Regions from separate parts of the Homo sapiens genome. Here regions 1 and 3 are each linked to region 2. Evidence: fine-mapped expression QTL. A gene starts in region 2. Each other region holds a variant in brackets. All regions are shown on one strand. Distances are from middle to middle.

Evidence for each region. PIP is the estimated chance that this variant, and not a neighbour inherited with it, causes the effect.
Region 1: its variant is the best candidate, but not a certain one, in a credible set for the expression of CHMP7 in whole blood (TOPMed, PIP 0.83).
Region 3: its variant is the best candidate, but not a certain one, in a credible set for the expression of CHMP7 in tibial artery (GTEx, PIP 0.62).

Annotation. Positions count from the first base shown.
Region 1 is chr8:23,173,649-23,177,888 of GRCh38, reverse strand. No RefSeq gene overlaps it. Among named protein-coding and RNA genes, the nearest start is that of TNFRSF10D, 12 kb to the right of the region's middle. RefSeq lists enhancers at 890-1,446, 3,788-4,240. The variant C/T (reference allele first, on the strand shown) is at 2,297.
Region 2 is chr8:23,241,278-23,245,517 of GRCh38, reverse strand. CHMP7 (charged multivesicular body protein 7) reads right to left here and starts at 1,881. Exons shown (of 11, transcript NM_152272.5): 1 at 1,674-1,881. RefSeq lists an enhancer at 1,688-2,189.
Region 3 is chr8:23,274,830-23,279,069 of GRCh38, reverse strand. No RefSeq gene overlaps it. Among named protein-coding and RNA genes, the nearest start is that of R3HCC1, 11 kb to the left of the region's middle. The variant G/C (reference allele first, on the strand shown) is at 2,440.

The DNA.
Region 1 (4,240 bases), 68 kb after region 2:
CGGAGGATTAAAACAATAGCTCGCAGCCCGTGGCTTCAAGGGTGAGGCTGAGGAGCCCATGGGCAGGGGCTGCAGGGAAATATTCTAGGGAAACCCAGAGCAGCACCTGCACCTTTCTTCTGGGGAAACATTGATGCATCTATAGATATCTATACATACCTGTATCAACATATAGAGAATATCCACAAAGATATAGGAAATATTCGAAGGTTCCCAGTAGAAATCCTGGGACTGAAAAAAATATAATAGCTGAAGTGAAAAATCCAGTAGAGAAATTCCACAGCAGATTTGATCAGGCAGAAGAAAGAATCCGCTAATTTGAAGACAGGAGAAAAGAACAGGCCAGATAGCCTCTGCTGTGTGCAAGGAGGGAAGGAACTGCTTCACAAAAGCAGACCTTCCCTTGCTTGTCTGTTCTCCTACTAGAGAAAGCAGTAGATGATCATATCTGAAGAGTATGTTGGTAACATCAAACATAAAAAGAAGGCAATTAAGGGTAAAATCCTGAGATATGTGTGAATTCATGACCAAATTAACTATGGAAACTTACATAAAGGAAGTGTAGAGGTTTTGTTTTTCTTTTTGCCCCTGTCCTCCCATTCTTCCCTGAAACAGCTCTGAGTAACACAGGCTGTGTTCTTGCTGTGACTCACACCTTCCTGCCTTCTCTTCCTTCAGGCTTGCTGAAGTCGGTGTGGGGTTGTTTCCTGCCTCTGACTCCCTGGAACTTAAAGTGACAGAGTCTTGGGGACTTGAATCCAGCACCTCCTTCTTCCCCTCCCTTTGGAGACAGGGACACTAGCACTGGGCTGGCTCACCCACAGCCTCCCGGGGGGTCCTCTGGCTGCACCTGGGGCTGCAGTTGGGCTCTGACAGAGCCGTCAAGGAAGGAGCAGTGGGTCCTCCTGAGAGGTGAGCTGGCCCTGGTTGTTAGGAAAGTCCTGTGGTCACTCTCCTGTGGCTTCCTCCAGCCCTGGCCCGATCTTCGCTTTCTCCCCTGAACTTCCCTGCATCCTCATGAGTGGGACCAGGTTGCTCAGCCCTGCAGGCATCTGGGAGACCCATTTCCTGTTTTCCTTGCCCTGGAGGAACCCCTCCCTCTTGCCTATAGCTCCTGGGAGGCCCAGGCGTGCTCCCATGCTGTTCCCCTTCCCCAGAGGGAAGGGAGTACTGCTCCGGGTCCCCCCTGCTTCTCACTTGCCCTCCCCATGAACTCCTCGGCCTCACTTGAAACCCTGGGCTGTGAGCTATGGTTTGAACCCTCCACAATCCTCCAGTCTCATCTTTCCTCTTCTTAGACTTGACCTTTCTTTCCTCCTGCTCTATTCTTCCTTTTTCCCACAAGCCAGCACTAGGCAGGGCTCACTGTGTGTGATACTTCATTACAGGCGACTCATTCTTCAGCTCTGTGCCCCTTTTCCTAACATTCGGACCCTGCCCAAAGCCCCCCACAAAACATAAAGTTAATAAACATCCTGTGAGTCCCCCTCCAAAGATTAAGAGGATGGCCTGTGTTCTCAAGATGGGCAAAGGCGAGAGTCCAGTGTCATGCTCCACCCAAATACCAGCCCCTCTCCCCAAAACCTCTATCACCAGTATGCGAAGGGCAAAGAAGTTGTGAATATTTGAGAATACATCTTTGGCCACATTTCTAATCACATTCATTAGGCAATTTTCTAGAAGAAGTAGAATATCGGCATTAACCCGTACAGGTGCGCGCGCGCACACACACACACACACACACACACACAGCTGTGATTCCTACCAACAGTGCATCACTTTAGATCTGACATCACTGTTCTTTGGATTTCATTTTTCCTAACTAGGAAAGAATTAGTTGACTTTGATGACATTTCTCTGATATATGTTTCATATATTGGTCAGTACTTTAAATTTCTTTGTTCAAATTCATTTTTTAGGATTTGTTTTGTCTAGAAAGACAGGCTTCATGCTTCCCAAATACTAATAACAGATTTCTGGTTTTTTAAATTTGCCTATTCTTTTTGTCTTAGATTTTAACGTACTGAAATTTTAAATTTTAAGTAGCTAAATCTATAGGTACACTTATTTTTTTCTTGGTCATAAACTTAGAAAGTCCATTGCCCAACATAAAATAAAATGAACTTCTCTAATTTCTTAAGGAGATTTTATTAAATCATTAGATTTGTAGCATATAGTGATGTAAAGTCCATGGACATTACTTTTGATATAGAAAGTGTGATGTTGCCCTTAATTTTTCTGTGTTACTCTCATCTGTCCAACCCCAGTGAGCGACTGATTATTCCTTCCTCTGAAC[C/T]TTGTGGTTTATGGTGTTTATGGCAGGTTCATTCCATAGCACGAAGGCGTCAATCATTAATCTATGGTGATTAATCCTCAGTCATCTCCCTGCTCTGAGCTGAGGGATGTGCTAGTGTTGAAAGTTCCATTGCTCTGATCACTGGCGGCCGGACCCTCTCCTCCAAGAGCCACCTCATGAGCATCAACTCAGGAATGCTGGAAGTCGTTTTATGATTAAAATAAATAAAGCCCCTCTCACCACAATTGCTCAGGAAACATCAGTGTTTTGAAGCTTTGGCCCCAAAACCAGGAGCAGAGAAAAAAACAGATGTTTCTTATTACGTCCCAGCCATGAATACCAAGAGAGAGGAACACTGGGGCCATTTCAGAAACTGCTTACCACAGGCCCCATGTGGGCTCAGGGGAGAGAGGCCCTGGCCTGGAGGAGGAAGAGTGAACGGGGAGTGTGAGTGACATTAAGTGTTTGCTAACGTGAGACTAGCTGGACCCTCTCTCTTCTAGTGGTCCCTGAATCAGAGCCTTAGCACTACATATTGGAGTCTGGATTGCCTGTTTCAGGAATCTGGTCTCTCAACAATCATTAGATTTCTGAATGAAGATTTAGCATAAACACCCTGTATATGATAAAACAAAATTTTAAAGATTATATTTAATTTGTTTCGAGGCCTTCACGAAAAATTTAAAGAAATTATACCACCACAACCCATATTGACATCTACTGACCCCTGGAAACCAGTAGAGGAATATGTTAGGAAAAAATATTCTGCCAGGGACCCATCTGATGTTGGCCTGACCACCTGAGCGCAGGCACTGGTCCCACTCATTAACAGATCTAAGAAACATGAGGTACCAGCCCTACTACCCAAAACCCTGAGTGCTATAGGCTCAGACAAAAAGGCAAAGTTCTAGCTAAGAAAATATTAAGAAATTGCCTGGCGCGGTGGCTCAGGCCTGTAATCCCAGCACTTTGGGAGGCCGAGGTGGGCGGATCACGAGGTCAGGAAATCGAGACCAACTAACACGGTGAAACCCTGTCTCTACTAAAAATACAAAAGATAAATTATCCAGGCGCGGTGGTGGGCGCCTGTAGTCCCAGCTACTGGGGAGGCTGAGGCAGGAGAATGGCGTGAACCCAGGAGGCGGAGCTTGCAGTGAGGCGAGATAGCACCACGGCACTCCAGCCTGGGCAACAGAGCGAGACTCCATCGAAAAAAAAAAAAAAGAAAATATTAAGAAATTGAGAGGTGACAGCATGCTGGCAGTCCTCAGAGCCCTCCCTTGCTCTCGGCAGGGCTCCCACTTTGGCGGCATTTGAGGAGCCCTTCAGCCCCCCCACTGCACTGTGGGAGCCCCTTTCTGGGCTGGCCAAGGCTGGAGCCCACTCCCTCAGCTTGCAGGGAGGTGTGGAGGGAGAGGCGCGAGCGGGAATCGGGGCTGCGTGCGCGCTTGCGGGCCAGCTGGAGTTCCGGGTGGGCGTGGGCTTGGCGGGCCCGCACTCGGAGCAGTCGGCCAGCCCTGCTGGCCCCGGGAAATGAGGGACTTAGCCCCCCGGGCCAGCAGCTGCGGAGGGTGTACTGGGTCCCCCAGCAGTGCCAGCCCACTGGCCCTGTGCTCGATTTCTCACCGAGCCTTAGCTGCCTTCCTGCGGCGCAGGGCTCGGGACCTGCAGCCCGCCATGCCTGAGGCCTCCCACCCACTCCATGGGTTCCTGTGCGGCCCAAGCCTCCCCGACGAGCACCTCCCCCTGCTCCATGGCGCCCCAATCCCATGGACCACCCAAGGTCTGAGGAGTGTGAGCACACGGCACGGGACTGGCGGGCAGCTCCACCTGCAGCCCCAGTGCGGGATCCACTAGGTGAAGCCAGCTGGGCTCCTGAGTCTGGTGGGGACGTGGAGAGTCTTTATGTCTAGCTCAGGGATTGTAAATACACCAATCGGCACT
Region 2 (4,240 bases):
TGAAACCCACAATGTATCAAAAGAATTGTACACCAGGTTAAAGCGGAATTTATTACAGCTAGGCAAGGCTAGTTCAATGTTCAAAAATCAATTAATATAATCCACCAACAGACTAAAGAAAAATCATATGATCATATTGCTAGATGCAGAAAAAGCATTTGACAAAATCCAACACCAGCTCATGATAAAAAGTCTCGGCACTCTAGGAATAGAGGGACACATCCTCCACTTGATAAAGAACATAAACAGGAACCTTACAGCCAACATAAGAATTAATGGTGAAAACCTAGATCGTTTTCCAGTGGAATCAGGAATAACACAAGAATGTCTGCTCACACCATTCCTAGTCAACACTGTACGGGAAATCCTAGCTAACACAGTTAGCCAAGAAAAAGAAATAAAAGTTGTACAGACTGAAGAGGAAGAAATAAAATGGTCTGTCTTTATAGAAGACATAATTATCCATGCAGAAAATTATGAAAGAATTGCCAAATCGATGTCCTGGAACTAAGAGGCAATGAGAACAAGATTGCAGATACAAAGTTAATGTATAAAAGTCAATTCCCATATACCTATAATGATCAAGTGGAATATGAAATTAAAAATGCAATACCATTTACATTAGCACCCCCCTATAAAACTTAGGTATAAATCTAACACGGTATGTACAAATTCTACATAAGGAAAACTACAAAATTCTGATGAAAGAAATCTATGAAGGACTAAATAAATACAGAGGCATTTTATATTCATGGACAGGAAAACTCAATATTATCAAGATATCAATTCTTCCCAAATTGATCTGTAGATCCAGTGAAATCCCAGTGAAAATCATGGCTAGTTATTTTGTGGATATCAACAAACTAATTCTAAAGTTTATGTGGAAAGGCAAAAGACCCAGAAGAGCCAACACAATATTGAACAAATAAGTCAGAGGACGGATACAACCCAACTTCAAGAATTACTATAAATCAACAGTAATCAAGATAGTGTGGTATTAGTTAAAGAATAAACAAATAGATAAATGGAACAGAATAGGAATCCCAGAAATAGGCACATGTAAATACAGTCAACTGACCTTTCGAAAAAAGAAAGGCAATACAATGGTTCAAAGAGTCTTTTCAACAATGAGCACTGGAACAACTGTACACCTACATGCAAAAACAAAAACAAATCCAGGTACAGATCTTACACCATTCACAAAAGCCAGCTCAAATGGATCATGGACTTAAATGTAAAAACACAAAACAATAAAACTCCTAGAAGACAAAACATCTAGATGACCTTGGGCATCATGATTACTTTTTAGATACAACACAAAAAGCATAATCCATGAAAGAAATAATTGATAAATTAGACGTAATTATTATTATTATTATTATTTGCTTTCTGAAAGACACTGTGAAGAGAATGTGAAGATAAGCCACAGACTGGTAGAAACTATTTGCAAAAGACATCTCTGATAAAGGACTGTTATCCAAAACACACGAGGAACTCTTAAGACTCAAAAAAAAAAGAAAAAGAATAACCCAGTTAAAACATGGATAAAAGATCTGAGCAGACCTCTCACCAAAGAAGATCTACCAACGGCAAATAAGTATATGATAATATGCCCAACATCATATGTCATTGGGGAACAGCAAATTAGACAAGAATAGCATACTACTACACACCTATTAGAATGGTGAAAATCCAAAATACTGACCACACCAAATGCTGGTGAGGATGCAGAGCAACAGGAACTCTCATTCATTGCTGGTGGAAATGCAAACTGGTACAGCTACCGTAAGGTTGGCCAAGAGAAAAGACGAGTATACTCAAAGTCAGGCAAGCAAGTTTATTGACCTGCCGGCCTGCTGCATAACAGTCAGAGGAGGCAGCCCAGGGTGTTTAAGGTGAGGGACTTATATAGGGCTTTGAGGGCCTAGGGGCTTTCTGAGGTTAGTCTACATCCTGCAGTTGTTTGTCACTTCTTGCCCCACCTGGCTTAGAGTACCAGGATGTGGTTTGGCCTGGGGGTGGATACAGCTGTACCTAAGTTCTGGTAACGTGAAGTAGGGGCAGCATCTCAGAAGAAATAAGCTGCAGGGCATTTAGGGGAGGGGGCTTGCTGCGTTCTTCTGTGGACAGGTTGTCTCTAAGAGCTACTTTGGAAGACAGTTTGGTCGTTTTTCACAAAATTAAACATTCTCTTCCCATGCAAGTTTACTTATAGTTTAACTTTGAAACAAAGTATAACAGTCCTTTCCCAAAACAAAACTCCTTACTGCCTGTGGACTAGACTGCCTAGACTGCCACAAGATTAGAAGTTATGGTAATTTTACTAAATCAAGATGTAGCTATTTTCATTAAACCAGTATCAATGTCTTATTTATTAATGGTTACACGAGCAGAGATCATTCTGTCTTGGGCTGGGTTTATAGCCTGTGCCAAATTTTGACACCTAATAGTATTTGGCAGGGTTAAGTATGAAATTGCTTGATTAATAAACGCAAATAAAAATGTATGCTGGCAATTCCTAAGACATTTCTAATATTACTTTACCAATAATTTTAAAGATAGCTTATTTATTAAAGATTTTACTTAAGTCACATAACTTGAAAAAGCATTTGACTAGTCTTTCCTTTTTCTAATAAAGTATTTGATGTAAATGCTTTTATTTTTTAAGACAATTAATTAGAGCTCTTTGATATATTTTCAGGAGTGCAACATTGTATACATAACATATAAATACATAGATGTATTAGGCATGCTGATAGAAGAAGTACATCTTACAGATTCATAAAAACCTTTTTTCTTTATCTTAGACTTTCAGATTCTTGATAACCTGTTTCACAGTGCTAGGCAGTAGTCAGCTAAATAGTCTTAAATTTGCATATTAAAGGAAACAACTCAGGTGAAAGTCAGATAGCAAAATTTACATTATAAGGTCTGAAGAGAAATTCTGTGAGCTAGAGGGAAATTAAAACAGATTTAATTGCCAATTGAACATAAAATTATAGAAATTTATCACTGGATTGTATAAGGAGACCACTGTTATTTAGATAGGGACTACCAATTCTTTTTTAACTGGATCTCTGAGCTCTGGGCAGAGCCCACACTGAATCCTGGGTCTCCAAAAAGGGAGAATTATTATGAGGCTAGACCACATGATGCTTTTACAGTGCACTTAAAACATTTTTGTAAACAAAGCATTTCTAAGTGTCTAAACTATACTCTTTCTTAAAAACCCAAGAGTAGCCTCTGTTGCAATAACTATTTTAGTAAAAAAAAAAAAAAAAATCGAGTGGAAACAGAATTGAGTCAATTGAGAACAAAAAAAGTTTTTGCTCAAAAAAAGACAAGGTCCTAGCAGAGAAAAACAAAAACAAAACCATGAAGGCCTTTTAAATATGAACATGCACTTATGCACACATACACATACACATACATTTTAAATATTAGCTTTTAATTAAGTTGACTTTTAACTATTGAGTGTCTTTAAAAATAAAAAATCTTGGGCTGGGTGCAGTGGCTCATGCCTGTAATCCCAGGACTTTGGGAGGCCCAGGCGGGCGGATCATGAGGTCAGGAGATGGAGACCATCCTGGCTAACATGGTGAAACCCCGTCTCCACTAAAAATACAAAAATTAGCCGAGTGTGGTGGCACGCGCCTGTAGTCCCAGCTACTCAGGAGGCTGAGGCAGGAGAATCGCTTGAACCCGGGAGGCAGAGTTTGCAGTGAGCCAAGATCGTGCCACTGCACTCCAGCCTGGCGACAGAGCAAGACTCTGTCTCAAAAAAAAAAAATTCAAAATTTTATTATTATATTTCAGCTAGGACAAATTGCTGCTATTTCAGAAGTACCAAGTATTGGTCCGGCGCGGTGGCTCACACCTGTAATCCCAGCACTTTGGGAGGCCGACGCTGGTGGATCACCTGAGCTCAGGAGTTCGAGACCAGCTTGACCAACATGGAGAAACCCCATCTCTACTAAGAAATTCAAAAGGCACATGCCTATAATCCCAGCTACTCGGGAGGCTGAGGCAGGAGAATTGCTTGAACCCGGGAGGCGGAGGTTACGGTGAGCTGAGACCACGCCATTGGACTCCAGCCTGGGCAACAAGAACGGAACTCTGTCTCAAAAAAAAAAAAAAAAAAAAAAAAAAAGCAGAAGTACCAACTATCAAACCAGAAAGGACTTGATTTAGGAACCAAACTTAGGCTGTCATGAAGACAGGAGAAAAAAAAAGGCAGAAC
Region 3 (4,240 bases), 34 kb before region 2:
AGGATCACTTGAGCCTAGGAGTTCAATACCAGCCCTGACAACAGAGTGACTCCCGTCTCTGCCAAAAATTTAAAAAATTAGCCAGGCATGGCCGGGCACGGTGGCTCACGTCTATAATCCCAGCACTTTGGGAGGCCGAGCCGGGCAGATCACGAGGTCAGGAGATCGAGACCATCCTGGCTAACACAGTGAAACCCCATCTCTACTAAAAATACAAAAAAATTAGCTGGGCGTGGTGGCGGGCACCTGTAGTCCCAGCTACTCAGGAGGCTGAGGCAGGAGAATGGCATGAACCCAGGAGGCCGAGCTTGCAGTGAGCCTAGATCGCCACTGCACTCCAGCCTGGGCAATAGAACGAGACTCCGTCCAAAAAAAAAAAAAAATTAGCTAGGCATGGTGGCGCATGCCTATAGTCTCAGCTACTTGGGAGGCTGAGGTGGGAAGATCGTTTTTGCCTGGGAGGTTGAGGCTGCAGTGAGCTGTGGTTGTGCCACTGTACTCCAGCTTAGGTGACAGAGTGATACCCTGTGTCTCACACAGACACACACACACACACACACACACACACACACACAATGTTAAATACAACAATATTTTATTAAAACAAAAGAAAATGTGAATCTACAGATTAAAATGGTGTTCTAGAAAATAAATATATAAATAAAAGGTTGATCCAGATTATGGTAAAAATATTTTCTCTGATAATTAAAAAAATGAATTTTGATTTAGGCAAAATTCAAAGGAAAAAAATTAAGTGGCTGATAGATTTTCCTAGCAACTCATCTGCCAGAAAGCAATGGAACAATATCTGTAGAATTTTAGATGGAAAATGTTAAGACTGGGAAATTCTATAAAATGTGATGGCAATAGAAAGATATTCTCAAACCTGCAGTCACATTCTGCCAAGAGAAATGGAGTGATGCTGGCCTGTCAGGTGGGGATGCCAGGCCATACTGGCAGACACTGTGTAGGGACAGCCTGTCACGTGTACTGCACAGCTTTACTCAAAAGACATCTTGCAAAATCCACAGATAACTTTTTTTTTCTCTAGTGACCTCTTCAATCTCTTCCAGAACAGATCACCCAGACTAGCCTCTTTGATAGCCTCCAGCTAATCATTAGAAAAATCACCCTGCCTAGGCTGGCACCTTTTTCTTCTGTCTTTATAAATCCTCCCACTGGTTTGTTTGTTTATTTATTTAGGTCTTTGTGCCTTGGTAAGAATCTAATGTCTGTCTCCTTGGTGTGCTTGTGAATTAGTTACCCAGCTCATGAAATATTTCTGAGTTATGCTTTGAGATTCACGGTCCTTCCTAGAAAGCCACTGGAAGACATGGTCCCCACAACCAAGAGATGAATTCAAATAAATGACTCACAAGCTGGGATGACCTGGGAGAAGAGACCTTGTGCTAAATAATTCATTTACTTAAAACATTCAATTAACTTAAATAATCAGAGCAACAAAATGGTATACAAATATTATAAATCTTGAAAGGAAGACTACAGAATGTAAAAACAAAAGCAATTTCTTTATCGCCATAAACTGGGACAGGAACCCCAGAGTACATTCCAAAGTATGGTGGGGAGGAGAAGAGGCGTATAACTATGGCAAAGTCAGTAAATGCTATGTTTTCCAAATAATTGCCAGAAGTTAGGGAAGTTGGTTAAGAAAGAAACACTGCCCATATAGAAAAATATAACTGGGGAGGGAGAGGAAGCCAGAAAAAAAAAAAAAAGTAACACCAAAGTGTTTCAAGCAAACCAGACGTGGGATAATTCAATTATATTACAAACATTAAAATGGATTAAAAAGAGGCCGGGCGTGGTGGCTCATGCCTGTAATCCCAGCACTTTGGGAGGCCAAGGCGGGCGGATCACTTGTGGTCAGGAGTTCAAGACCAGCCTGGCCAACATGGCAAAACCCTGAGTGTGGTGGCTCACGTCTGTAATCCCGCTACTGGGGAGATTGAGGCACGAGAATCGCTTGAACCCAAGAGACAGAGTTTGCAGTGAGCCGAGACTGCGCCACTGCACACTCCACCCTGGGTGACAGAGAGAATGTTTCAAAAAGCGAAACATTATTATATGTTCTTTACCCAACTCACAGTTAGAACAACTCTACGCAAATTCATTTAAGGATCTAAATAAAATGATCAAAACACCACACACGGCTAAATGGAGAAGCACAGAGGAACCATATTCACTTCAGGACAAGTCAAGGCTATGTACCCATGCCTCTAGTGTTTACCTTTTTTTAAAGAGGTATTAACAAAAGCAAATTGACAAAAAGACATAAAAACTGGAAAGTTTAGACATTTGAGGTGATCAACTTCTCATTGTTTGCAGAATATTTGTGTTTTTGGTGGTTTTTGTGTTTGTTTGTTGTTTGTTTTTGAGACAAAGTCTCCCTCTGTCACCCAGCCTGGAGTGCAGTGACAT[G/C]ATCGTAGCTCACTGTAACCTGGACTCCTGGGCTCAAGCCATCCTCCTGCCTCCGGTAACTGGAACTACAGATGCACACCACCACACCAGACTAATTTTTGTATTTTTTGTAGAGACGGGGGTCTCACTATGTTGCCCAAGCTGGTCCTGAACTCCTGGCTCAAGCCATCCTCCCGCCTCAGCCTCCCAAAGTGCAGGTATTACAGGCATGAGACACCACACCCGACCTTTGATTTTTTTTTTTTTTAACCTAAAAAATCCAAGAAAATCAACTAAGAAACTCTTATAAGCCACAGCTGTTTCCAGAAGTGAAGACCATTCTGGAGCCAAGGCGGTGGGAGTGATAAAAGGGCAGAGAAAGGCAGAGATGGTGGAGAAAGGGCCAAAACTAGAGAGGGAAAGTGGGAGAGAGGGGAGGGTGCGGAGGCGCAGGGGCTGGTGGGAGAGGGGAATGAGTCATCTTCCCTAGTTCTCGCTCTACCTGATTAGCCTGTGTGTGTGTGCCATGCCAGCCAGGAGAGTCCCCGCCACACCCCCCAAATCTCTGACACTTTTGTTGTCCCTCAGTTCCCAGGAGACCTCAACCTCTCCAGAGTTCTAGCCTCTTCTTAAAGGGCAGAGTCATGGGAACTCAGATGGAGTGAGGGGATCTCCTGTGAAGGTCTCCTTACAATGAAATGACTTTGCAGAAATTTGGACACTACCTCCAAATGCAGATTTATGGCCCGGCATGGTGGCTCATGCCTGTAATCCCAACACTTTGGGAGGCCGAGGCAAGGATATTACCTGAGGTCAGGAATTCGAGAGCAGCCTGGCCAACACGGTGAAACCCTGTCTCCCCTAAAAATACAAATTAGCCGGGCGTGTTGGTGGGTGCCTGTAATCCCAGCTACTCAGGAGGTTGAGGCAGGAGAATTGATTGAACCCAGGAGGCAGAGATTGCAGTGAGCCAAGATCGTGCCACTGCCCTCCAGCCTGGGTGACAGAGTGAGACTCCGTCTCAAAAAGTAAAATAAAATAAAATAATTTTTTAAAAAATCCAGATTTATTTTCCCTAGCTCGAAAGCCAACCTCACATCGAGCCTGTCTGTGGCCACACTGGGGCCCAAGGGGATGGAGGAAAAATAGATACTAAAAATGAATATTAAGCCTTTGTAACGGCATAAAAAGTACCTATGTTTAAAAGTTTAAAGGTTATGAAAAAAATGAAACAAAATTGATCTCATTTACTAAACAAAAGGCAATAGAGGCTGGGCACAGTGTCTCATACCTGTAATTCCAGAACTTTGGGAGTCGGAGGCAGGCGGATCACTTGAGGCCAGGAGTTCAAGACCAGCCTGGCCAACATGGTGAAACCCCATGTTTACTAAGAATACAAAAATTAGCCAGGTGTGGTGGTAGGCATGGCATCTGTAATCCCAGCTACTCAGAGGCTGAGGCAGGAGAATCGCTTGAACCCGGGAGGCGGAGGTTGCAGTGAGCTGAGATTGAGCCACTGCACTCCAGCCTGGGTGACAGAGCCAGGCTCCGTTTCAAGGAAAAAAAAAAAAAAAAAAGGCAATAGAAAAGACAGTGAAGGAAAATATACTGAAATGTGGGCAGTGGTTGTCTCTGAGTGCTATGATGATCGGTTGTTTCCTCTCTAGACTCCTGCTCTTTTCACATAAAATTGTCTGTAATGTATGTATCCAAATGTATATCTCTATAGTGCATGTATAATATAGGCATGTGATTTTCATAAGCTGCAGGATATACCTATTTTTTATTCTTCCCAAATCATTCAAAGTAGCACTACTTGCAA